Linked DNA regions of Homo sapiens. The protein of the gene in region 3 purifies or fractionates together with the protein of the main gene of each other region. This does not show direct contact. Each region holds a gene or a part of one and is shown on either strand. Other genes may lie near its edges. The genes, in order: C1D, CTCFL and UNC45B.

Region 1 (2,843 bases), on a different chromosome or scaffold from region 3:
AACCTGACATAACTTCCTAATTCCAGGAATGTAACATAATTCAAGCTTCAATTTTTCACTCAACATATTCTGTTTTACTAAAAGGATTTCCCACCTTACAACTATGAACAAGAAAAAATTTGTACTTAAAATAATATTAAAATGCAAGATCTCATTATTTAGTACAAGATTAATAGACTATAATTCTAATCTTAAAAATATCTATAGATGCAACTTCTCCAACTTGTTAATTCCCAAAGAGATTAATAAAAGATGTAATTAACATCTAAACTTAGAGCAGACTATCATGTGGAACAAACTATTTTAACAAGAACTGCACCATAGTCAAATAGATCAACCACACACATCACCCTTTATGGTTCTGAATAAGGTTAATGAGCACAATTTGTCATAAATTTTCCCATAACTCTGAGAAACTGAATTGAATAAAAAGACTATTTTTTTCTTAACACCTTATAAAGATAGGATAAAGGCCGTAGTTATCGTCTTTGGAACGTTGCACCTAGCACTGTATCTGGCAATATAAATGTCATTAAGTATATTTGTCAAAAGAATAAACAAACAACAAGCAAATAAGCAACCCAATGCACTACAGCCATTCAGCTCCTTATTACGTGCTAAGTATTTAAAATTATACATAATAAAATGGAATATACTCAAACTTTTATTTCTACCTAATAATGAAAGAATTACTCACTTAAAAGTTACACAATTTAACAGAACGTAGAGGTGCACTTTCATAAACCAATAACTTAGCTAAAACCAATAATGATTTTCTGCAATTGTATAACATTTTTCATTTAAGCTGTTTTTCTTTTATGAAATTAGAAAATATACAGAAATCCAAATAAATTTCTTTGCAATAAATAACACAAAGACAGGTACACTACACTTGATCTTAACAGTAACACATTTCTCTCATGAAGAGGTTATTTTTAAAAATAGCTAGAAATTTGGAGACAAAGGCAAAAAAAGGAGTAAAATAACTATAAATGTTCACTAATGTTCTTCCACTTCAAAAACTGACATCAGAGACAGAAAAGACCTTCTGCGTCTATCAGTGACTTCCTCTTCATGTGTCATAGAAAGAGTTCAACATGCTTTACAAAATCCATTACATTTTAAGACCATTTCCAATATCTGCTATCATAAATCAAGAAATCCATTTATTCAAGGTTACTTATGGAGAATTAATCACACAGAAAATTTTAACAACTCCTTTTTCAAAAATTAAAGTACTTTACTATACTTGGCATTCCTACACATAATGATATGGATTCAAACACTGAAAGCATTAAGGGCATATAATTAAAATTCATGGGCTTAGACATTTAAAAAAAGGTTTACTATGTAGTACTCTCTGTAACTAATATTCCAGAAAAATAAACCACAATACAAACACAGTGTAATCTCCTTTGGACTTCTCATCTGCTTAAGTGGCATTAGGTAACTTAAGAAGTTGTTCCAAAACACTTGTATGTACTTGATACAGCCTCAAAAACATGAAATAAAAAAAATCTGAAAAAAAATGAGATGAAAAGAACTGTGGACACCATGCATCAGGAACAAAAACTCAAGAATTTCTCTATTTGTGATGACTTCTAAAACCTATCTTCCTAATTTGGAAGGCAAATTTACTCAAAAGATAAAAATACACAGGTCAGTTATACAACATTTTCAGCCTTTATTGAGAGTACAGTCATCATGCCAAAATTCATCCATCAACATACAACCTTATTTCCCATCTAAAGTTAATGAGAATGTATTTTATTTTAAATGGGACATAGAGGCAACATGCCAAGAATTAAAGTACAACCATAAAGTTTTAGTTTCACACTTTGAATATCAACAAAGCAGTAATTCCTAAAATCATGAAAACATGATAAAGTATCTATACAGAAAAAAATGAACATTTAAGTCATTTCACGCTTTCTTAATATCATATAGTGAAAACAGATGTACCTATAATTTCAGCCTACAGATAGCATACTTCATAAGGTCATTATTCATTTAAAATAGTACAAATGTTTACAAAGAACATTTCACTTAAATTTCACAGCTGCTTATAAAATGGTACTTGCAAGACTGACCTATATAAAGAAATAAGAGTCTCATCAAGAGATGGTAAATTATAAATATATAATATATCACAATGTTAAAATCCTCAGTGCTAATCAATAAAGATAATGATCTTTGGAGAGGAAAGTATTTAGCTTTACATATTTACTGTGAATTTACATATTAATAAGAAACACATTTAAACCTTGCCCTGCCACAGAATTATTTTGCGGGGGGGGGGGGGGGGGGGAAGATGTACTTTTTGAATATGTGTACATCAAAACCAAAAAGTTAACTTTTACTTTTTCCTTTATTGGCAACTTTTGATGCATTTTTCGATTTTGGTTCCCAGAGGGCATTTTTTACAAATCTTGAAGCTGCACCTCTGTCCAGCTTGCCAGCCTTTTTCTTGTCTGTTATTTCCTTGACTCTGTTCATATATACTCTGATTCTTTCCTTAAAGATAAAAAACAAAGGCAATAGATTTACTAAGCTATTCGCCACCACTGAATTTTATTATACTGTACACCTTGGTTAAATTCAACATATATGTATTTATTGCCTATTAAAGTGCATGGTGCTAGGAAATGCAAATGAATAGGATAAATACGCTCCCTGCTTGCCTGGAGTTCATAGTCGGAGGGTGGGGAAAGACAGATGTTAAAAAGTCATTTCAGAAGTCTTCTGTTTCCAAAGAGTTAGAATCACACTAAGACATTACTCCAGAAATAAACATCGAATTGAAAGTTTCTAGGTGGTTATACATTTTTGAAAAACACCATTAA
Region 2 (3,655 bases), on a different chromosome or scaffold from region 3:
GCAACACAGGGAGACCCCCATCCCTCCAAAAAAATTAGCTGGTTGTGGTGGTGCACCCCTGTAGGCCTAGCTGCTCAGGAGGCTGAGACAGGAGGACCACTTGAGCCCAGGAGTTGGAGGCTACAGTGAGTCACGATCGCACCACTGCACTCTGGCCTCAAAGACAGAGTGAGACCCTGTCTCTAAAATAACTTTTTTAATTAAAAAAAAAAGAATAGTGCTGTTGGTACTGGACTAAGCAATACATTTATGGTTTTATTCTTTTAGGTGTTGTATTAGTTATCTATTTCTGTATGACAGATTACCTCAAAATGGAGTGGCTTAAAACCACAAACATTTATCACCTGACAGATTCTCTGGGTTGGGAACTCGGAAGTGGCTGAACTGGGTGGTCCTGGCTCAGGGCCACTCCTGAGGCTGCAGTCAGGATGTCCGCCAGGGCTGCATCATCCGAAGGCTGGACTGGGGCCAGAGGATCCACTTCCAGGACAGCTCCGCCACACAACTGCTGGCACCGGCCTCAGTTCCTTGCTACAGGGACCTCTCTGCAGGGCTGCTTGAGTGTCCTCCTGACTCAGAGCAAGTGAGAGAGTGCAAGTAGGAAGCCATGGTGCCTTTTGCAGTCTAGTCCTAAAAGCGGCACAACAGCCAGCTGTGGGGGCTCACACCTGTAATCCCAGTACTTCGGGAGGCCAAGGCAGGTGGATAACTTGAGGCCAGGAGCTCAAGACCAGCCTGGCCAACATGGTGAAACCCTGTCTCTACTTTAAAAAAAAAAAAAGAAAATAGCTAGGCGTGGTAGTGCACGCTTGTAATCCCAGCTACTTGGGTGGTTGGGACGGGAGGATCACTTGAACCCAGGAGACAGAGGTTGCAGTGAGCTGAGATTGTGCCACTGGCCTCCAGCCTGGGCGACAGAGCAAGACTCTGTCTCAAAAAAAAAAAAAAAGTGGCACATTCTAGTCACAAGAAATGAACCATGAAGTCCCACCCACACTCGAGTGGGGAATGAAGTTTCTTTTGAAAGGAACAGCATCAAAGAATTTCAGGACATTTAAAAACCACTGCACATGGCTAGCTAGATCCTTGGACCATGTAGGCTTCAGCCTAACTTTATAAAAGTTTTATAAAAGTTGAATTTCCTGAAGTTGACTATTTTTTTAAAAATATTTCTTCTTAAAACAGTAGTGTAGTTGTGTTTTTCTGAGTAGCACAGTGGGATAGTTCTGGAATGTCAACCCTATTAGTTTAAAATTTCAAATAAAAGCTGTGGCAGTGCTCCCAAAACACCATTGCTCATGCAAAAATTGTGAAGAGTTAAAATTAACGAGTAGAATTCTAAAGAGAAAAAAACTGCTCTTTGGTGCAAGAAATAAAAATGTAGAGAAAAGAACAAGTCTGCCTCATGCAGTCCCTCAGAACATAAAATTTTTGAAATTCCGATTCAAGAAAGCATATTTGGACTTGTGTCTAAAATATAAAAAGAACTCTTATAACTCAGTAAATAGACAGATACCCAATGAAAAACAGGTAAAGTATCTAGGCCAGGCGCGGTGGTTCACACCTGTAATCCCAGCACTTTGGGAGGCAGAGGCAGGTGGATCACAAGGTCAGCAGTTCAAGACCAGCCTGGCCAAAATGATGAAACCCCATCTCTACTACAAATACAAAAATTAGCTGGGCATGGTGGCACATGCCTGTAATCCTAGCTGCTCAGGAGGCTGAGGCAGGAGAATTGCTTGAACCCAGGAGGTGGAGGTTGCAGTGAGCTGAGACTGTGCCACTACAGTCCAGCCTGGGCAACAGAGCGAGACTGTCTCAGGAAAAAAACAAAACAAAACAGTTAAAGTATCTAAATAGACCTTTCTCCAAAGAAGACATACAGGTGGCCAGTAAGCGTAGCGTCATTAATCACCAGGGCAACGCAAATCAGTTTCTGCCACGACTTCTTGAGTCTGCCCTTGTGTCATGGAAGCAGCTGTGGATGCAGTGTGTAAATGAATAGACATGGCTGTGTTCCAGTAAAACTTGCTTTCACAAACAGTTGGCAGCCAGATTTGACCCACTGGTTGTCGTTTGCCAACCCCAGTGTCTAAGCATAAAATGGAAGAAGTTTAAACAACCTGTTCCATCACCCCCATTATGTGTAAATTCTTCCTTCTTCCATCATAAACGCAGACAGTCCTGTTAAGCACAGTGGGAAAGTCAAAATGGGAATCAGGCGGGATGTTTCGCATAATTTGCAAATTTCAACACCTGTTGCCAGTTTTTTTACTTTTGCCTAGGACCTTTTCAAAAAGTGAAAATTTTCTGACTTAAGATTATCCTGAGTGTTTGTTAGATGAGACTATGTCACGAGTAGGCTTGACTAGGGGAAGTCTTTGGCTTTTATTCCTGAATGTTGTATACAGTTTCATAACTGCCACCCATGACCTCTGCTCAGTAGCTTCAAGAGAGTAGCTAACAGAAAAGTAAAATCTTTATGGTATGTAGTTGATGGTTATGAAATTGACTGATGTATTGAATTTTTGGTTCAACATCAGTCTTCACTTTAGAGAGTAGAAACATTCTAGAAAAATAAATTTTAAGGCCGGGCGCGGTGGCTCACGCCTGTAATCCCAGCATTTTGGGAGGCCGAGGCGGGCGGATCACGAGGTCAGGAGATCGAGACCATCCTGGCTAACATGGTGAAACCCCATCTCTACTGAAAAATACAAAAAATTAGCCGGGCGTGGTGGCACATGCCTGTAGTCCCAGCTACTCGGGAGGCTGAGGCAGGAGAATGGCATGAACCCGGGAGGCGGAGCTTGCAGTGAGCAGAGATCGTGCCACTGCACTCCAGCCTAGACGAAAGAGCAAGACTCCGTCTCAAAAAATAAATAAATAAATAAATAAATTTTGTCTTCTCATTGATTTCTATTATTAAAAAAAAATACTTAAAGCAAGCTAGCTTTTGGCTAGAGCTAAGCACAACAGAAAGGGTCACCTTTAAAAAGTCATCATTTTTGCACAAGATTATCAAAGGTGCATGCTACCCACAGTTTTCCCAAAGGCCATCTCTTTAACTGTGCATTTTTCAGTGCCTTTGGGGAAGCCGACTCTTGTTATAGAACCAAACTGGGGTCTGCTTGCCTGGTGCAGTAAGACCAGATATCCACACCACAGTTTGCAGCAGGAGTTTATTTGCAGGGTGCCAAGGAAGCAGAAGCTACAGACAAAATTATAAATCAGCGCATGGAGGATACCTTGCCCTAAAAGGGCAGGATATCTTGCAGCAAGGGCTTACAGGTTGTAGGTAGATTCAGAGACTGGTTTGCAATTGGTTAAGGAAGAGAAGTTTTGTTTAAAATTTTGAGAAAAGAGTATTAGCTCTGGTTCACGAGGCATGACCTCCTCTAGGCCTCTCAGGAGGAAATTAAGAACAAAATTAGAACAAATTTAGCAGTGGTCAGATTTCAGCCCCCAGGTCCTCCTTATCTTAGGTCTCCCTGCCGGTGGACCTGTTTGGTAAAGAGCCAGGTTTCTAAAAAACAACTCAGGGACGGATGTTAGGATGTTATCTTGGCCAGTGCGGTGGCTCACGCCTGTAATCTCAGCACTTTGGGAGGCCAAGGCAGGTGGATCACTTGAGGTCAGGAGTTTTGAGTCCAGCCTG
Region 3 (3,655 bases):
ATAAAAGACAGTTTTATTTCATGTCTCCAACAGATAACAATTTGATTTTCTCAGATTTCTGGATTTTGTGACATGGGTGCTAAGTAGGAATCATGAGAGGAGAGGCATGGTCAGCATTAGCCCAGAAGTCACAGATCCCCTGGAACCCTCTCCAACAATTCCCTGCACATGAAGATATGATTTGTGTGTGATTTGTTTAAGAATATATGCAAGATATTGCCAGCCAATAAAATCATTTAGATTTTTTTAATGATCAAAGTAATATAATCATGCTGCAAAACGAGTTAAAATGTGGGGAAAAGAAAATAACCACTCATGATTACGTCATCTCCACATGACTGCTGTTGGCATTTTGATGTTATGTTACCTACCAGAGGCTTTTTTTCTATGTATCTTTTTTCCTTTCACAGTTATAATTAGAATATATTTATCATTTTGTGCCCAATTTTGGAAAAATATGTTTTTCACATTGCCATCTCATTCTCTGAATCATTTTTATTTTATTTATTTATTTTTTGAGACAGAGTCTTGCTCTGTCACCCAGGCTGGAGTGCAGTGGTGAGATCTCGGCTCAATGCAACCTCTGCCTCCCAGGTTCAAGTGATTCTCCTGCCTCAGTCTCTCAAGTAGCTGGAATTCCAGGCATGCACCACCATGCCCGGCTAATTTTGTGTTTTCAGTAGAAACAGGGTTTCACCATATTGGTCAGGCTGGTCTCAAACTCCTGACCTCAAGTGACCCACCCACCTCGGCCTCCTAAAGCGTTGGGAATCCAGGCATGAGCCACCACACCTGGCCTCTGAATCATTTTTGAAAGCTGCATGATGTTTCATCCAGGCAAGGGTGCAGAGCATGTGCTGTGGCTGTGAAGTTCCAGTGTGGCTTCCAGGGCTTGCCCAGGGTTGTCAGCCCCTTCCCCACCACTCCTCACTCTGAGGATTATCTGTAGGGACTCTTTAACCCTGGGTTGACTTTGGGTTTCCAGCAAACCCAATCCATTGTTATGGCGGCTTCATCCACTGTGTCCTTTCCTGCCTATACCCTCTCTCTACCTCCACTCCCACCTCAGCCTTCTCCAAGAAAAACAATATACGCATCATTTAGTCTTTTGGATTATCCGTCTTTTATTTCATTCCTCTGTGAATGAGAGAATCTTTGGGACTGGTTTTCTACGGTATCAGCTCCTCAGGCTCTGTCTTGGGATTAGGTAAGGCAAGGAAGAAGAGAGGAGAGACAATCACACACGACAGCAAGGCGTGCTGTATACCCCTTGGCAGTTGCTTGGGAAGAGGGAATCTGGAGAAGTGTCTTAGTTTCCTATTGTTTCTAGAACACATTGCCACACGCACTGTGGCCTAAAACGCAATTTTTATACTTTTTTTTTTTTTTTTTTTGAGACTGAGTCTCCCTCTGTCGCCCAGGCGGAGTGCAGTGGTGCAATCTTGGCTCACTGCAACCTCCGCCTCTTGGGCTCAAGCAATTCTCCTGCTTCAGCCTCCTGAGTAGCTGGGATTATAGACACGCTCCACCATGCCCAGCTAATTTTTGTATTTTTAGTAGAGACGGGGTTTCGCCATGTTGCCCAGGCTGGTCTCGAACTCCTGGGCTCAAGTGGTCCACCCACCTCAGCCTCCCAAAGTGCTGGAATTACAGGCGGGAGCCACCACGCCTGGCCCGGTTTTAAAAATCTTATAGTTCTGGAGGTCAAGAGTCCTAAAATGAGTCTCACTCGGCTAAAGTCAAGGTGTTAGCAGGGCTGGTTTCTTTGGGAGGCTCTAAGGGAGAATCATTTTGTTGCCTTTTTCAGCTTCTAGAGGCCACCTACATGCTTTGGCTGGTGACCTTGAACCACTCTGACCTCACTTCCATTCCATTGTTACATCTCCTAGTACTAACTCTGATCTTCCTGCCTCCCTCTTATAAAGATCCTGGTGATTATATTGGGCCCACACAGAAATCTAGGCTTACCCCCTCATCTCAAAATCCTTAACTTAATCGTGTCTGCAAAATCCCTTTTGCCATGTAAGGTCCCACGTTCACAGGTTCCAGAGATTAGGCCATGGATTTTTTTTTTTTTTTTTATACAGAGTCTCGCTGTGTCGCCCAGGCTGGAGTGCAGTGGTGCGATCTCGGCTCACTGCAAGCTCTGCCCCCGGGTTCATGCCATTCTCCTGCCTCAGCCTCCTGAGCAGCTGGGACTACAGGTGCCCGCCACCACGCCTGGCTCATTTTTTGTATTTTCAGTAGAGACAGGGTTTTACCGTGTTAGCCAGGATGGTCTTGATCTCCTAACCTCGTGGTCCGCCCGCCTCAGCCTCCCAAAGTGCTGGGATTACAGGCATGAGCCACTGTGCCTGGCCAGGCCATGGACATCTTTGGAGGCCATTATTCAACCAACCCCAAGAATTCAGAAATGCACCATCTTTGGTTCCAATACCGATTGGCCTGGCACCCAGGACCCTCCCACATTGCCATCTTTTCATCTCCTCAGGACAAGAAGGACTTTATAGACATGCGGGTGAAGCGGCTTCTGAAGGCGGGTGTCATCTCTGCCCTGGCTTGCATGGTGAAAGCAGATAGTGCCATCCTCACTGACCAGACCAAGGAGCTGCTGGCCAGGTGGGGCTGCAGTGGGCCAAGGCTTGGAACTAGGGCTGGGGGCCGAGGGTCCTGGAGTGCAGCACACTGGGCAGGGAGATAGAAATGGTGGGGGCCTAAATGAGGAGATAAACTATTGGGAAAGCCTGGAGAAAGGTCTGAGGGGATCAGCTTTGAAAAGTGACATGGGACCAGGGGTGGTGGCTCATGCCTGTAATCCCAGGGCTTTGGGAGGCCCAGGTGGGAGGATTGCTTGAGCCCAGGAATTCAAGACTAGCTTGGGAAACATATTGAGACCCCATCTGTACAAAAAAATTTTAAATTAGCCTGGCACGGTGGTGTGCACCTGTACTGCCAGCTACTTGGGAGGCTGAGGCAGGAGGATCACTTAAGCCCAGGAATTCAGGGCTGCAGTGAATGATGATGGTGCTACTGCACTCCAGCCTGGGTAACAGAGCAAGATCCTGTCTCTATACAAAAGAGAAATAAAGAAAGAGAGAAAGAGAGAGAGAGAGAGAAAGGAAGGGATGGCGGAAGGAAAAAAGGAAGGAGGGAAGGGAAAAGAAGAAGGGAGGAAGGAGAAAGAAAGAAAAAGAAAGAAAGAAAAAGAAAGAGAAAGAAAGAGGAAGAAAGGAGGGAGGGAAGGAAGGAGGGAAGAAAGAAAGGAGGGAAGGAAGGAGAGAGAGGAAAGAAGGAAAGAAAGAAAGGAAAGAAGAAAGAAAGAAAGAAAGAAAGAAAGAGAAAGAAAGAAAAAAGAAAAGAAAGAAAGGGAAAGGAAAGGAAGGAAGGAAGGAGAAGGAAAGAAAGAGGGAAAGAAGGAAAGGAAGGAAGAGAAGTGGTATGTTGGGCAGGTCATCACAGGTGGAAGTTTGTATCAGGAGAAAGGAGGCCACTGTTCCTTCTTGTTACCTTGTTCTCAGAGATTAAAGGCACAGTCTGTGTGCAGCCTGGCCAGGGAGGCAGGCAAGATCACAGCTACAGTCCGATGCAATGGATGCCATGATGTGGGAAGCATAAAGGGCTGATTGGAGCACAAGCAGTGTTCCCCAACCAGCCA

Evidence for each region.
Region 1: the proteins of UNC45B (region 3) and C1D purify together in Homo sapiens (co-immunoprecipitation; one large-scale study listed by IntAct). This does not show direct contact.
Region 2: the proteins of UNC45B (region 3) and CTCFL purify together in Homo sapiens (affinity purification with a luminescence readout; one large-scale study listed by IntAct). This does not show direct contact.

Annotation. Positions count from the first base shown.
Region 1 is NC_000002.12:68,040,540-68,043,382, forward strand, and holds the end of C1D (nuclear nucleic acid-binding protein C1D), read right to left. Parts: intron 2,515-2,843; coding exon 2,350-2,514; 3' UTR 591-2,349; downstream 1-590. UniProt on the Homo sapiens protein: Plays a role in the recruitment of the RNA exosome complex to pre-rRNA to mediate the 3'-5' end processing of the 5.8S rRNA; this function may include MPHOSPH6.
Region 2 is NC_000020.11:57,504,489-57,508,143, reverse strand, and holds part of CTCFL (transcriptional repressor CTCFL), read left to right. Parts: intron 1-267; coding exon of another isoform or gene 268-279; exon of another isoform or gene 280-300; coding exon of another isoform or gene 301-348; exon of another isoform or gene 349-351; coding exon of another isoform or gene 352-561; exon of another isoform or gene 562-1,138; intron 1,139-3,655. UniProt on the Homo sapiens protein: Testis-specific DNA binding protein responsible for insulator function, nuclear architecture and transcriptional control, which probably acts by recruiting epigenetic chromatin modifiers.
Region 3 is NC_000017.11:35,171,751-35,175,405, forward strand, and holds part of UNC45B (protein unc-45 homolog B), read left to right. Parts: intron 1-2,491; coding exon 2,492-2,619; intron 2,620-3,655. UniProt on the Homo sapiens protein: Acts as a co-chaperone for HSP90 and is required for proper folding of the myosin motor domain. Plays a role in sarcomere formation during muscle cell development. Is necessary for normal early lens development.